2 linked regions of the Homo sapiens genome follow. The protein of the gene in region 1 interacts with the protein of each later gene in a pairwise test. Each region holds a gene or a part of one and is shown on either strand. Other genes may lie near its edges.

The links. Proteins that work in one complex are often made in the same cells at the same time.
Region 2: the proteins of ZNF699 (region 1) and HRC interact in binary tests that used the Homo sapiens proteins (3 or more experiments, as listed by UniProt).

Annotation. Positions count from the first base shown.
Region 1 is NC_000019.10:9,306,833-9,314,708, forward strand, and holds the start of ZNF699 (zinc finger protein 699), read right to left. Parts: upstream 3,007-7,876; 5' UTR 2,518-3,006; intron 1-2,517. UniProt on the Homo sapiens protein: May be involved in transcriptional regulation.
Region 2 is NC_000019.10:49,152,397-49,159,498, forward strand, and holds the start of HRC (sarcoplasmic reticulum histidine-rich calcium-binding protein precursor), read right to left. Parts: upstream 3,001-7,102; 5' UTR 2,842-3,000; coding exon 1,011-2,841; intron 936-1,010; coding exon 865-935; intron 1-864. UniProt on the Homo sapiens protein: May play a role in the regulation of calcium sequestration or release in the SR of skeletal and cardiac muscle.

The DNA of each region.
Region 1 (7,876 bases):
CTTATTCCCTAGTTTTACCAGGATTTAGCCTAGAACCCTATTGGGCACTACAGAGAGTGGACAAATGAAGCATTCTAATCAAATATGCTGTGCGTGGTAGCTCATGCTTGTAATCCCAGCACTTTGGGAGACCAAGGTCGGGGGAATCACATGAGGTCAGGAGTTCAAGACCAGCCTGGCCAAAATGGCGAAACCCTGTCTCTACTAAAACTACAAAAATCAGCCGGGCATGGTGGCGCACAGCTGTAGTCCCAGCTACTCAGGAGGCTGAGGCAGGAGAATTGTGTGAACTCAGGAGGCAGAGGTTGCAGTAAGCCGAAATCACACCACTGCACTCCAGCCTGGGCAACAGAGCCAGACTCTGTCTCAAAATAAATAAAATAAATAAATAATCAAATATGTTATCTTTGAGCTCCTTTTCCTAAGGCCTATGTCTTGGGCAACGATGCTTCCCTTATAGCCCTTACCTCCTTCGTTTCATGTTTATTTAGGTGACATTTATCCTGACCCTACTACATGAAGTCACAAGGAATAAGGCATAGAAAAATAAAAAAGAAAAATCCTGAAGCAAATGAATGTTATAATATTTTGGGTAAGACATTAAACAAAATACATCAGGTAGAGATACATGCTATATAAAAAATGTAGCACATTATAGGGATAAGGAGACACGTAACATATTTATCTTTAGCAAGTCAGGACAGGTAATGTGGCAGGGTAGAAGCAGAAAATTAAAATAACTATTTCAGATCATGCTGGAATTTCAGAGGGTTTAGTATATCTATTATATATTTATAAGCATTATCAACTCCTAGAGGAAAAAAAATCAGTACTGGCCAGGCACGGTGGCTCACACCTGTAATCCCAGCACTTTGGGAGGCCAAGGTGGGTGGATCACAAGGTCAGGAGTTCAAGACCAGCCTGGCCAAGATGGTGAAACCCACCTCTACTAAAAATACAAAAAAATTAGCTGGGCATGGTGGCAGGTGCCTGTAATCGCCACTACTTGGGAGGCTGAGGCAGAGAATTGTTTGAACCCAGGAGGCAGAGGTTGCAGTGAGCCAAGATCACGCCACTGCACTCCAGCCTGGGAGACACAGCGAGACTCTGTCTCAAAAAAAAAAAAAAAAATCGGTATTAATAGGCTAGACTATTGATATATAAAGTTGAATAAAGACCAGCATAAAAGTTTAGAAAGAAAATAGAAAATAATCTTTTTTAAAACATAGTAAACAAAATCAGAAAAGCTAAAAAAGCATCCTTTGCAAAAAGAAAAACTAATGAAACTGACAAACTCAGCTTTTTAAAAAAATTTTTTAATTTAATTTATTGTTTAAGACAGACTCTTTATGTTCCCAGGTTGATCTCATTTCCTAGGCTCAAGCGATCCATCTGCCTTAGCTTCCCACCAGCTGGGACTACAGATATGCGCCACTGCAGCCAGCAACAGACTCAGCAATTTTAAGAGCAACAGGGCATAAACAACAACAACAAAAAAAAAATGAACAAGAATTAATCATAATTACAGATATCATAAGGAGAATATAGAAAAAATTTAAGGAATAAATATGAAGATGCACAGGTAATTAATGAATTTCTAGAAAGTAGTACAACTTTCAAGCAGTGATCTAAAACCTGATTACACCCAGTAATTAAAGAAAAAAAAATCAGCGGTTTAAAACACGGTCAGGCCGGGTGCAGTGGCTCATGCCTGTAATTCCAGCACTTTGGGAGGCGGAGAGCCCATGAGTTCGAGACCTGCCCGGGCAACAGAGCGAGACTCCTATTTTCTAAAAAGAAATAGGAATAAAGAAAGGAAAAAAACCTACAAACACCTACAGCAAACATCCTATTTAATGGTGAAATGATAGAATAATTCCCTCTGGAATCAGAAACAAGACAGGATGTAAATTACATGCTATTCTGTCGGACATTGTACTGGAGGTCCTGGCAAGTGCAGTAAAGAAATGAAAAGAAATGGAAACTGCAAGGAATAAAAAGGGAAAAGATTGAAACTGACAGATGACCAAATTTTCTGTGTGAAATTTAACCAATCTATAGACAAATGATTCAAATGCATCATTAATGACAAAATGCATCAGTTCACTTTCACTTGAATATAATGTATCAAACTGATGTCCACAGGCAGAATATAATATCCAGAGACCAAATACTATCTTTTTGTTTTTTTGAGACAGTGTCTCGCTCTGTTGCCCAGGCTGGAGTGCAGTGATGCGATCTCAGCTCACTGCAACCTCTGCCTCCCGAGTAGCTGGGAACACAGGAGAGCACCTTTTATTTTACTTTTTTTTTTTTTTTTTTTTTTGGTAGAGACGGGATCTTGCTATGTTGCCCAGGCTGGCCTCAAACTCCTGGGCTCAAGCGATCCGCCCGCCTCGGCCGCCCAAAGTGCTGGGATTACAGGCGTGAACCACCGCGCTTGGCCCAAACACTACCTAATGCATAAAGAGGGGACAGGAGGGGACCGAGCCGAGGCAAATGTCACCCCGTGCTCACCCGACACGCCGCGATCCACAGATCAGCTCACAGAGAACGAGGCTGAAGCGCTTGTCCTTGAGACACGAATGGCAGAGATGCTCTTCCTTTCTGGAAAGAGAGCAAAGGATGCTTTCGGAGGCTGATGAACTACGACATTGGTTCTCCAACTCTCGCCTGCATCAGAATCACCCCGATTTCTGTACCCAGACCAGAGTTCCCGATTCAGTGAGTTTGGGACCAGCCGCGGCCACAGGGGCAGCTGACCCGGGCTCTCTGAGGAGGCGCCGCGGCGGCGGGAGGCCCCGGGCGCGGGGTCCGGACAAGGAGTGGCGGGGAGGCAGCCCTTAGACCGCCGATTCCCAAACCCAGCCCTCGGTCTCCCGCGGACCCGACCCGGGGCAGGCAGGGCGGGGCGGGGCAGGGCAGGACAGGAAGCGGGCGGAGGCAAAAATGTTCCTCAGACGCGGGCGGAGGCGTAGGGTGACAAGGCTGTCGACTCGCGCATGCGCAGAAGCACACTTCTGATTCCTCTTTCGGCGCTGCAAATGGCGTATGGGGCGGGGCCTGGGAAGCGGGACTTGAGGTGAAGGGGGTGGAGCAGGTAGGAGCGGGATGCAAAGGAGCGCCAAGGCTGGTTCCAGCCGCAAGTGGATGAGAAATCCTAGTTTCTTCATGATTTGGAGTAAACAGAGAAGAAACAGAACCCTGAACTGGACTTGCATGACTCGGCCTGAGGGGCGGAACTGGGGCTAGACCTAGGGGCGTGGCCTTTTAAATACTCCAAGGGGCGGGGCTAAAGGTGGAACCAGATTGGGAGCGGGGCTTGGTAGAAATTCCTAGGGGGCGGAGACGAGGGCTGGGCGGGGCTTAAGTGACAAGGCCTAGGGATGGGGCTAAGGCTAGGGCTTCCCATCCAGGTTCTCAGCTACCACGGATACAGGATGCTCATCGATCGGGTTTCTACCTATCCTCCACGTTGCTACAGTCCTGTACACAGGACACATATATTTGCAGCTCTAATAGGAAACAGACTCTCCTTGACACTCACTCAGTCCTTTTGGGCCTTTTAGTTTTCCCTTTCATTGTTGTATTGATAACTTCTCCTGTAGAGGGAAGCCATTGATAATTATTTAAATAGAACCTTTTTCCTGGAAACTTGCTGAATTCTGATAGCTGTCAGTTTATTATTTGAACCATCAAATATAAATATTTTCTCTGCATATTTTCATTGTTTTAATGTGTATAACTCATTTCTTTATGTGAGGCAATGTCTCATTCTATCGCCTAGACTGGAGTGCAGTGGCGCGACCATGGCTCACTGCAGCCTTGACTTCCCCAGCTCAAGTGATGGTCCCATCTCAGCCCCCCAAGTAGCTGAGAATACAGTCGCGTACCACCCCACCCAGCTATTTTCTTTATTTTTTTGTAGAGATGGGATCGCACTATGTTGCTGAAGCTGGTCTCAAACTCCTGAGCTCAAGCTATCCTCTCACCTCAGCCTCCCAGAGTGCTAGGGGTACAGGTGTAAGCCACCACACCCAGAGTCATTTCTTTTTCTTATTGTTTGTTTAGGGCTTCCTCAACTATAAGTCGGAAAGAAATTAAGCATTCTTGTCTTGGTCGGTAATGATTACCAAAGTTCCTCAGTAAGCTGTTTACAACAGGTTGCACCTCTTATCAAGTTAATCTTTTTAAACCAGGTTTATAAAGATATTTTATCAATAATTTTTTATGAACACTATCAAATGTTTATGCAACAATTGAGTTGATAACATAATTTTGCTCCTCTTAGTTTATAATATGATATCCATATAAAATATTTAATTTTAGGCAAGGCGCAGTGGCTCATGCCTGTAATCCCAGCACTTTGGGAGGCCGAGGCCGGTGGATTACCTGAGGTCAGGTGTTCAAGACCAGCCTGGCTACCATGGTGAAACCCCATCTCTACTAAAAATACAAAAAATTAGCTGGGCATGGTGGCGGGTGCCTGTAATCCCAGCTACTCAGGAGGCTGAGGCAAGGAGAATCGCTTGAACCTGGGAGGCAGAGGTTGCAGTGAGCTGAGATCGCGCCATTGCACTCCAGCCTGGGCGACAATAGAAAGACTCCATCTCAAAAATATATATATTCAATTTTATATATCCCCAATGAATCTATACTTTTAGTAAAATGGTTTCTGAGTTTCCTAGTTTGCTTTTAAATGTCTCCCCAAACTCTAAAATATAAAAATACTTCCTAATTTACTTCCAAATTGTACTGCTTTTTAAAACGTATAATTCTTTACTGCTCAGGGAATGTATTTTGGTATAATATGAGGTAGAGATGTGTTATATAAGTGAACCACAGGTGGCCTTTCTGTATTGGTCCCTAGGTTGTTCATTACTTCTTCACTGCGGCTTGAGGTCACCTTCCCAATGCCTGTCCCTGGTGCCCTAGCCAGCTCCCTTTCATCATCTATGTTTTTTAAGTGTAAATCTTTTTCTATTATGAAGCATTATGTTCTCATTGTAGTTTTTTATTTTAAAGGAAAAGTATAAGGAAAAGACAAACAACATTCAGAATCCCAGCAGTGTTTGAATTTTCTGTATTTCCTTTCTGCCTTCTTTGTACGCGTGGGTGGCAAGCCACCCAGGTGCCAAGGCAAGAGACCGAGGGCACAAGCTGTTCCAGTATAATAAAGAAAATATATAGAATAAGAGTAGTTATACTAGAAATAGATTATAGATATGATTGTATATATCATTAATCATTTGTAGCATTACTCTTTATTCCAATATTATAATAATCTTTGTTCTACAATCATAACCTAGGAAAAACCAGGCCATACAGAGATAGGAGCTGAAGGGACATGGTGAGAAGTGACCAGAAGACAAGGGTGAGCCCTCTGTTATGCCTGGACAGAGCCACCAGAGGGCTCCCTGGTCTAGCGGTAATGCCAGCCCCTGGGAAGGAGCCCGTTACCTAGCGGACCTTGGTCTAGCAGTAGCGTCAGTGCCTGGGGAAGGCACCCATTGCTTAGCAGACAGGGAAAGGGAGTCTCCCTTTCCCCGGGGGAGTTAGAGAAGACTCTGCTCACTACCTCTTGCGGAAAGCCTGACATCAGTCAGGCCCGCCCGCAGCCATCCAGAGGCCTAAACGTCTCCCTGTGATGCCGTGCTTCAGTGGTCACACTCCTGGTCCACTTTCATGTTCCACCCTGTACACCTGGTTCTGCCTTCTAATCAGCAGTAGCGGAATTAGTGAAAGTACTAAAGTCTTTGAAATGCATAGAAGAAATAATGGCGTAAGCTGTCCTCTCTCTCTCTCCACCTCAGCTGCCAAACAGGGAAGGGCCCCCTGTCTGGTGGACACGTGACTCGCGTGACCTTACCTATCATTGGAGATGGCTCACACTCCTTACCCTCCCTCCTTGTCTTGTATCCAATAAATAACAGTGCAGCCAGGCATTCGGGGCCGCTACTGGTCTCTGCACCTTGGTGGTAGTGGTTCCCCGGACCCAGCTGTCTTTTTGTCTATCTCTTTGTCTTGTGTCTTTATTTCTATGATCTCTTGTCTCCACACACGAAGAGAAAAACCCACAGACCCAGTAGGGCTGCTTCCTACAGTACGCATAACAGTAGGTTTTTTTATTGTTTGTTTGTTTTTGACTCAGTCTCGCTCTGTCGCCCAGGCCGGAGTGCAGTGGTGCAATCTCAGCTCATTGCAACCTTCACCTCCTGGGTTCAAACAATCCTCCTGCCTCAGCCTCCCGAGTAGCTGGGATTACAGGCATGTGCCACAACACCCGGCTAATTCTGTATTTTTAGTAGAGATGGAGTTTCTCCATGTTGGTCAGGCTGGTCTCGAACTCCTGACCTCAGGTGATCCACCTGCCTTGACCTCCCAAAGTGCTGGGATTACAGGTGTGAGCCACCATGCCCGGCCAATCAGAAGTAATTTCAATTTTTCATCTGCCATGCAAAAAAGGTGAGGGATTGCAAAGGCAATAGCCTCTGGTCCTTTTGTTACTTGGGCATGGAAAGTGGGGTTTCCTTTTGATCTAGTTCTAGAAAGTCAGCGTGATTGGCCTTAGGTTCCCTTCCTCTAGACCCTATTCTACCTCAACACTGAAACTTGGAAAGGAAGCTTCTTCCTCCTTCCTTGTCTTCCAGCACCCTACACTGGTAATGGGTAAAAGAGAAATATTTATAAGGCCCATCTCCATTATCACAAAGCAGAAAAAAAGGACAAATTTGTAGCATAAGTAATAAATCTATAACTAGGACAGTGGTCAAAGCATGTTTTGCCTTGGTTTTCCTTTACTGACAGACCAGGTCCTAGCAACACCAAGAATTGGTTCATGGTATCCAGACTGCTTTTCCTCCCAATTTGTGGCAGGTCAATTCTCCCTGACAATCACACAGACAGGCCTGCATGACAGTCACACAGACAGACCTGCACAGCACTTCTGTTACACAGACAAATTTCCACAAAACTGCCTTAACATTGAGCAAATAGTTAAATCTAGGGAAATCAGTGCCCAGACATCAAAGCTAGAAATGAAACACATGGTCAGTTGAAGCTTCACACGGGCTTCTCCCTAACCTGGAGCAAGCCAAAATAATACAGACAGTCTTACATTCCTAGTACCAGCACGTGTCTCAGGTGGACGAAATCTGAGATGAGTCAAGATAACAGAGGCAGCTGTTTGAATAGATTCACTGGAGAGTCTAAGGCAGCTCTCTGGACCCAAGCTGTAAAGGAGATAATGTGTCCAGAGTTGGTTCCTGCTGGTGGGTTTGTGGTCTTGCTGACTTCAAGAATGAAGCTGCGGACCTTTGCAGTGAGTGTTACAGCTCTTAAAGATGGCATGGACCCAAAGAGTGAGCAACGTTTATTGTGAAGAGCGAAAGGACAAAGCTTCCACAGCGTGGAAGGTGACCCTAGCGGGTTGCCTTGCTGGCTGGGGGGGGGTGGCCAGCTTTTATTCCCTTATCGACCCCTCCCATGTTCCGTTTCTGTCCTATCAGAGTGCCCTTTTTTCAATCCTCCCTGTGATTGGCTACTTTTAGAATCCTGCTGATTGGTGCGTTTTACAGAGTGCTGATTGGTGCATTTTACAATCCGCTTGTAAGACAGGAAAGTTCCCCAAGTCCCCACTCAACTCAGGAAGTCCAGCTGGCCTCACCTCTCAATTATCCCTCTAAACAGGTCACCCAACAGCTGTTGGGAACTGGGTGATGACCGCTCTGGGCTACTTCCTGCCGGATAGGGGTGAAGAAGGGGCCCTGCAGTTGTAGTGTCCTCCAGAGGGGAACTCTCTAGGCCAGTGAAAGGGCCAGTGGGTCAGTCCAGGGGTCCTCAGTAGAAGTTCTGAGTTGAGCTCATTTGGGGTTCC
Region 2 (7,102 bases), about 40 Mb from region 1:
TGGTTAGATGGAAACTCTAACGCCACTTGGGAGGTACCCGCCCCTGGCCCACCCCTGCACCCTGGACGCTTCCCCAGACTCTACCCTCTTTATCTCTAACACTGAGCTCTGTATCTGCCCCCCAAACCAGCCTCCCCTCCCCTCCCCTGCCCCTGGTTTCCTTCCTTTCCCTTTTTTTCCTTTTTTTTCTTGAGGCGGAGTCTCTCTCTGTCGCCCAGGCTGGAGTGCAGTGGCGCAACCTCAGCTCACTGCAACCTCCGTCTCCCGGGTTCAAGCGATTCTCCTGCCTCGGCCTCCTGAGTAGCTGGGATTACAGGTGCGTGCCACCACGCCCGGCTAATTTTTTTGTATTTTTTAGTAGAAATGGGGTTTCACCGTGTTAGCCAGGATGGTCTCGATCTCCTGACCTCGTGTTCCGCCCACCCTGGCCTCTTAAAGTGCTGAGATTACAGGCGTGAGCCACCACACCCGGCCCTGCCCCTGGTTTTCTATCTCAGGGCGACCCCATGTCTCCCTGTCAGGGTGGGCTCAGGTGCTCTCTCCACCCGCTCTCTGCCTATTCTCCCCCTAGCCTATCAGCCCCTGTGCCATCCCTCCTTCCCCCGACTCTCTTTGCCACAGACCCCTGTCTCTGTCCCCACACCCCAAGATGCAGCTTGGGTCTTGTCCTCTCCTTCCTGGACCACTGCCCCAGCCTCCCAGCCTTCAGTCTGTCCTCACCTCACATGCCTGCAGAAGGATCTCTTTTCTTTCAGAACTGACCCTGGCCTGCCCTTGCTCTGAGCCCTCCCACAGCACCACCCCAGGGCCCCTGGGACAGATTCTGGGGACACCTTGGTGGGTGGATCTGGGCTGGGGACATACATTGCAGAAGGAGCAGTAGCCACACAGGGACCCTGGCTGGTAGTTCCCATACTCCTGAGCATCCTGTGGACCTGCGGGGACAGGAGGGCAGCAGTGACCCAGGCTGACTCGGTTCCTTCCCACCCACACCAGCCCAGGCCACTTACCTGTGTCCTCACCGCTTTCCTCCTCGCTGGAGGCACCTCCAGCCTCCTCTCTCCTGTCCAGTGGGTTGGGGATGATGGTGAAGCGGGGCTCATCTTCCTCCAGCCCCTCCTCCTCCTCCTCTTCCTCCTCGCTGTGGTCTGGGCTCAGTGGGGCCCCAACCTCAGCCCTCTCTTCCCTCCTCTCCTCGTCTTCTTCCTCCTCCTCCTCCTCCTTGTCTTCCTCTTCTTCCTCCTCCTGGTTCAGGCTGAGGCCATGACCTTCCTCCTCATCCTCCTCATCTTCCTGGTCCCGGCTGCCATGATGGGTGCCTTTCTCTCCCTGCTCTGAACTTTCATCGTCTTCCTCATGGGAGCCGGGGTCCTCTTCCTTCTCCTTTTCCTCCTCAGAATCATCCTTCCTCAAATGGCTTCTATCCTTGACCACTGTGTGTCCTGGGGGGTGATGGCTCATCTCTTTGATGGACCCTCTTTGACCATGGCCAGTTTCTTCATCTTGGTGGCTTTGCCTGTGGCTGGGGGCCTGGTGGCCAAGCTCAGCAGAGACCTCCTCATCTTCCTCCCTGGGGACTCTGTGGTGGTGATGGTGAGGGACTTCTGTTTTATACTCATCTTGGAAGTCCTCTTCATCACTCTTGTGGCCTCGAGGTTGGTGGCTTGCAACATAGTGGCCGAACTGGACTGTGATCTCCTCTTCTTCCTCTTCCTCATCTACAAGGCCATGGTGGACATGTTGGGGACCCTGGTGCCAACGTTCAGTGGACACATCCTCATCTTCTTCCTCGTCTCTGTGGCCTTGGTGCCTGTGGTCAGGGACATGATGGTGGTGTTCACCTGAGACAGCCTCAACCTCTTCCTTTCTGTGGTCTTGGTGCCTGTGGGCCTGGTGTCCATACTCAGTGGAGACATCATCATCATCATTGTCATCTTCTTCATGGCTTCGGTGCCTGTGGCTGGGGTCGCGATGATGGTGTCCATCTGAGACATCTTCATCCTCTTCAATCCCGTGGCCTTGGTGCCTGTGAGCCTGGTGTCTATATTCAATGGAGACATCATCATCATCATCATCATCATCATCATCATCATCATCATCGTCATCTTCTTCATGGCCTTGGTGCCTGTGGCTGGGGCCATGATGATGGTGTCCATCTGAGACATCCTCATCCTCTTCACTCCCATGGCCTCGGTGCCTGTGGGCCTGGTGTCCATACTCAGTGGAGGCCTCCTCTTCCTCCTCCTCCTCCTCCTCCTCCTCTTCTCCTTCATCATCTTCCCCATCATGGCCTCGGTGTCCATGCCTGAGGATATGATGGTGATGCTCACTGGACACAACTTCATCCTCATCCTCGTCTTGATGGCTGTGGCTCCTGTGGCTGGGGAGGTGGTGCCTGTGCTCAGCTGAGTCTTCCGTGTCTTCACTCCCGTGGCCTCTGTGCCCACGGGCCTGCCCACCATGCTCTGCAAAGACCTCCTCACCTGAGACACCCTCATCTCCGACTTTGTGGTCTTGGGACCTGTGGCCTGGGAGTAGGTGCCCATATTCCTTGGAGACATCTTCATCCTCCTTTTCACGGTCTGGGTGGCTCCAGAAATGATGCCCATTCTCTGTGGAAACATCCTTGTTCTCATCTGGATGGTCTCTAGGGCTGTGGAGGTGGTGGCGAAGCTCTGCTGATGCCTCCTCGGAGAGCCCGGCGACTCCAGTGCTGTTGTTCCGGTTTCTGAAGCCTAGCCCATCCCCTCTGAGCTGCTGGGTCATGGCCGGGGGGAGGAGCAGGCTGGCCACCCCAGCCCAGAGGACAGAAGCGTGCAGCCATGGCCTATGGTGGCCCATGGGGACGGACAGGCAGCACTGGCTCCAGCTGCCTCTGCGGCAATGTGGACAAACGTTGGGGTCTTTGTCCCTTTGGGGTTGGTCTCTTTTTTTCTCTGTGTCTCTCCTTTGTCCTTTCGGTCTCTGTCCACCTTCCTCTGGTCCTTGCTGCCTGGCTCTGGACACCCCTCTGAGGCTGTCTCCGGAGCCCCCTGACCCCCCTCTGGGGCCCTCCCTCCCCATTCCCCAGCCAATAGGGTCCTTCCCCTCCCCTCTCTCCAGCTAAATTTACTCTCAGCCCTGAGTTATTCTGGGTCAGTCCCCGCCTGCCTGCCTCCTGCTCCTCCTCCTCCCAGCTGGGGAGGGGACCAGTGAGGGGTCTCTCCCTGGCCAGGAGACGGTGGCCAAGGGACTTGACTTTGAACTACCAACAAGCTCACGTTTGGCAGCTGCAAAGACAAAGGCTAGACTTTTAGCAGGTTTTTGGGGGAGCCTGGGGCACCTGGGGGAGGCAGAAGAGACTTATCAGAGGGGAGAGACTCCTGGGACGGAAGGACTGGGGGTTCGATTGCGGGGTGTTTCCAGCTGGAATGATACGTGCTGGTGAGAGAGTGATGTCAGTATTGAGGCCCTAGAATGGGGGGAAAGGAACATGGCCCCCAACACACGTGCCCATGACCTCCTGTCCCTGGAACTCAGATCTGGGGGCAGGGACTGGGCTAGGCCAGGGCTATAAATACAGCTGGGAGGGGTAGGGGGACTCAGGTTACGGAGGCCACAGCTGTCCCCATCACAGAGGGCTGGCAGGAGACAAGTGGCCTTGCCCGTCTCTGTGTGTCAGTATTTCCTACTCCTCACCCTTCATGACTGCCCCCACTAGGGTCTCCTTTCCTGTTCACGGGTCCTCCTCTCTCTTCAATTCTGTCATCTGCTCTCTCAGGGTCCCTGTCCCTCCTCCATGGGATTGCCTCTCCCTCTCACTCTGGGCTTCTGTCCCACTCTTATCTTAGTGTCAGTCCTCCCCCAAGTCTGTGTCCCTCTCTCTCCCCTAAATCTCTGGCCCCTCCTTTCTGAGTTCCTGCCCTTCCCCCAATTCTTTGGTTTTTGCATCCCCCTCTGCCCCTTGCCTCAGTCAAGGTGTCTCCTCCCCATCTCTGGCATCCACCTCTCTGGGTCTCTGTCCCCACTCTCTCTCAGAGTCTCTGTCCCCCTCTGTCTCAGAGTCTCTGTCCACCTCTCCCTGGGTCTCTGTCCCCCTCTCTCTGGGTCTCTGTCCCCCTCTCCCTGGGTCTCTGTCCCCCTCTCTCTGTGGATCTCTGTCCCCCTCTCTCTGGGTCTCTGTTCCCCTCTCTCTGTGGGTCTCTGTCCCCCTCTCTCTGTGGATCTCTGTCCCCCTCTCTCTGGGTCTCTGTTCCCCTCTCTCTGTGGGTCTCTGTCCCCCTCTCTCTCTGGGTCTCTGTTCCCCTCTCTCTGGGTCTCTGTCCCCCTCTCTCAGGGTCTCTGTCCCCCTCTGTCTCAGAGTCTCTGTCCCCCTCTCTCTGGGTCTCTGTCCCCTCTCCCTGGGTCTCTGTACCCCTCTCCGTGGGTCTCTGTCCCCTCTCCCTGGGTCTCTGTCCCCCCATCCCTGGGTCTCTGTCCCCCCCTCTCTGGGTCTCTGTCCCCCTCTCTCTGGGTCTCTGTCCTCCTCTCTCTCTGGGTCTCTGTTCCCCTCTCTCTGGGTCTCTGTCCCCCTCTCTCTGGGTCTCTGTCCCCGTCTCTCTGGGTCTCTGTCCCCCTCTCTCTGGGTCTCTGTCCTCCTCTCTCTCTGGGTCTCTGTTCCCCTCTCTCTGGGTCTCTGTCCCCCTCTCTCTGGGTCTCTGTCCCCGTCTCTCTGGGTCTCTGTCCCCCTCTCTCTGGGTCTCTGTCCCCCTCTCTCTGGGTCTCTGTCCCCTCTCCCTGGGTCTCTGTCCCCCTCTCCGTGGGTCTCTGTCCCCTCTCCCTGGGTCTCTGTCCCCCCCTCCCTGGGTCTCTGTCCCCCCCTCTCTGGGTCTCTGTCCCCCCCTCTCTGGGTCTCTGTCCTCCTCTCCCTGGGTCTCTGTCCCCCTCTCTCTGTGGGTCTCTGTCCCACTCTCTCTGGGTCTCTGTCCCACTCTCTCTGGGTCTCTGTCCCCTCTCCCTGGGTCTCTGTCCCCCTCTCTCTGTGGGTCTCTGTCCCCCTCTCTCTCTGTCTATCCCTGGGTCCCTGCTGCCCCACCTTCTGATTCTCTGTCCCCTAAGTCTTTGTCTCCCCCTCTTTGGGTTAAATTGTCCCCTCCCTGTCTGGCATCCTCCTTTCTGAGTCTGTTCCCTCTCCGCCACTGGCCCCCAACTCCTTCTGTTCCCATCTCGCGCTTGCCCTTGGAGTCTCCCCTGTGTGTCTCTCTCCCCCCGGCCCGGACCTCTGCACCCCCCAGGTCGCTGTCCCTCTGTCCCCTTATCGCGGCCTGGGACCCGCCCTCTCCCCGCCTCCCGCTTTGGCGTCTCCAAGACTCCCCGCCCCCCAGACCTCGCCCCGCCCCAGGCTAGGCTGGAAAGTGGAGGATCCGGTTTGCTCTGGGCGGGTCTGGAAGCAGAGCCGGCGGAGGGAGCGCCGGGGCCCTGGGCTGCAGGAGGTTGCGGCGGCCGCGGCAGCATGGTGGTGCCGGAGAAGGAGCAGGTGAGCGCCGGACCAGGGTCTGCGGGAGCGCGGAGCTGGGGACCTCGCCTCCAGGCTCCCAGAGAGGAGGGCGCTGGACACCCAGATTCCTGGGTCAGACGGAGGAGGGGGATGGGAGGGTCCAGGTTCCAGGGTCCAGGGCATGGGGGTCGAGACTCCTGAGTCTGGAGCGGGAGGGCGCTGGGGGCCCGGACTCCTGTGTCCGTGGGGAGCGCACGGGGTGGGTGGCTCTGTGTCCCATAGGACAGAACTGGGTGCCCTCTCACCCCACTTCCACCCCTACATTTGTTCCTGTCCCCAGAGCTGGATCCCCAAGATCTTCAAGAAGAAGACCTGCACGACGTTCATAGTTGACTCCACAGATCCGGGGTGAGGAGTTCGCCCCTGGACTGACCCCAGAGGGTCCGCGGCCCGCTGACCCCGCCCGCGGATGGTCACGCCCCAGCCCTGCTCCTTCCCCATTCCTGGACTCGGGGACCTTCCCAAGGGCGTTCCTTGCCGACGCTCTCCCTCTAGGAGCGTTTGGGTCTGTGTAGACACCCCTCATTCCCCATTCGCCATTCTCCCGCTCAGGGTCAGTGTAGACGCTCCAGGGCTCGGTTCTGCTTCTTTCCTCCCCGATGTCTCTTCTATGTGCTTCTGTCTCTTCGTGTCACTTTCTGTGTCTCTGTCTTTCCCTTTTGGGTATTTCTGTTTCATTCATTCATTCATTCATTCATTCATTCATTCATCCATCCATGCAAGAAACCCTCACTCAGCGCTCCCAAGGTCCCTTTAGCCTAATTCAACGGCCCTGCCAGGGTTCCAATTTCCCCTGGGACACGTGCTGTGTGGCTTCGGGCAAATCATTTCACCTCTCTGGGTCCCGTTTCTCATCTGGGCATCAAAAGAGGCTTGATCTCCTGGGGTTATTATGAGAATTAAACAAGTTAATGCTTGTGATATTCCTGGCACAGCGCCCAGCACAGGACGCTGGGAAATATCTGCAGCTCCCACTGGGAGGTGGCAATTATTACCGCGGGCGGGCCCTGTCTTGGTGGCCGGGGACACCAATTGAGCTAGATAGGGTGTGTGCGTCCGCGAGGAGCTCCCGCCCTTCAGTGACGGCCTCTCAAGCGGATCCAGGCTTTCTAGTTTTTTTTTTTTTTTTTTTTTTTTTGAGACGGTGTCTCGCTCTGTCCCCCAGGCTGGAGTGCAGTGGCGCGATCTCGGCTCACTGCAAGCTCCGCCTCCCGGGTTCACGCCGTTTTCCTGCCTCAGCCTCCCGAGTAGCTGGGACTACAGGCGCCCGCCACCACGCCCGGCTAATTTTTTGTATTTTAGTAGAGACGGGGTTTCACCGTGTTGGCCAGGATGATCTCGATCTCCTGACCTTGTGATCCGCCCGCCTCAGCCCCTCAAAGTACTGGGATTACAGGCGTGAGCCATCGCGCTGGGCCAATTTTTTGTATTTTTTTTTTAGTAGAGACGGGGTTGCACCGTGTTAGCCAGATGGTCTCGATCTCCTGACCTCATGATCCGCCGGCCTCGGCCTCCCAAAGCGCTAGGATTACAGGTGTGAGCCACCGCACCTGGCCCAGGCTTTCTAGTTTTTTGTTTTTTGTTTTT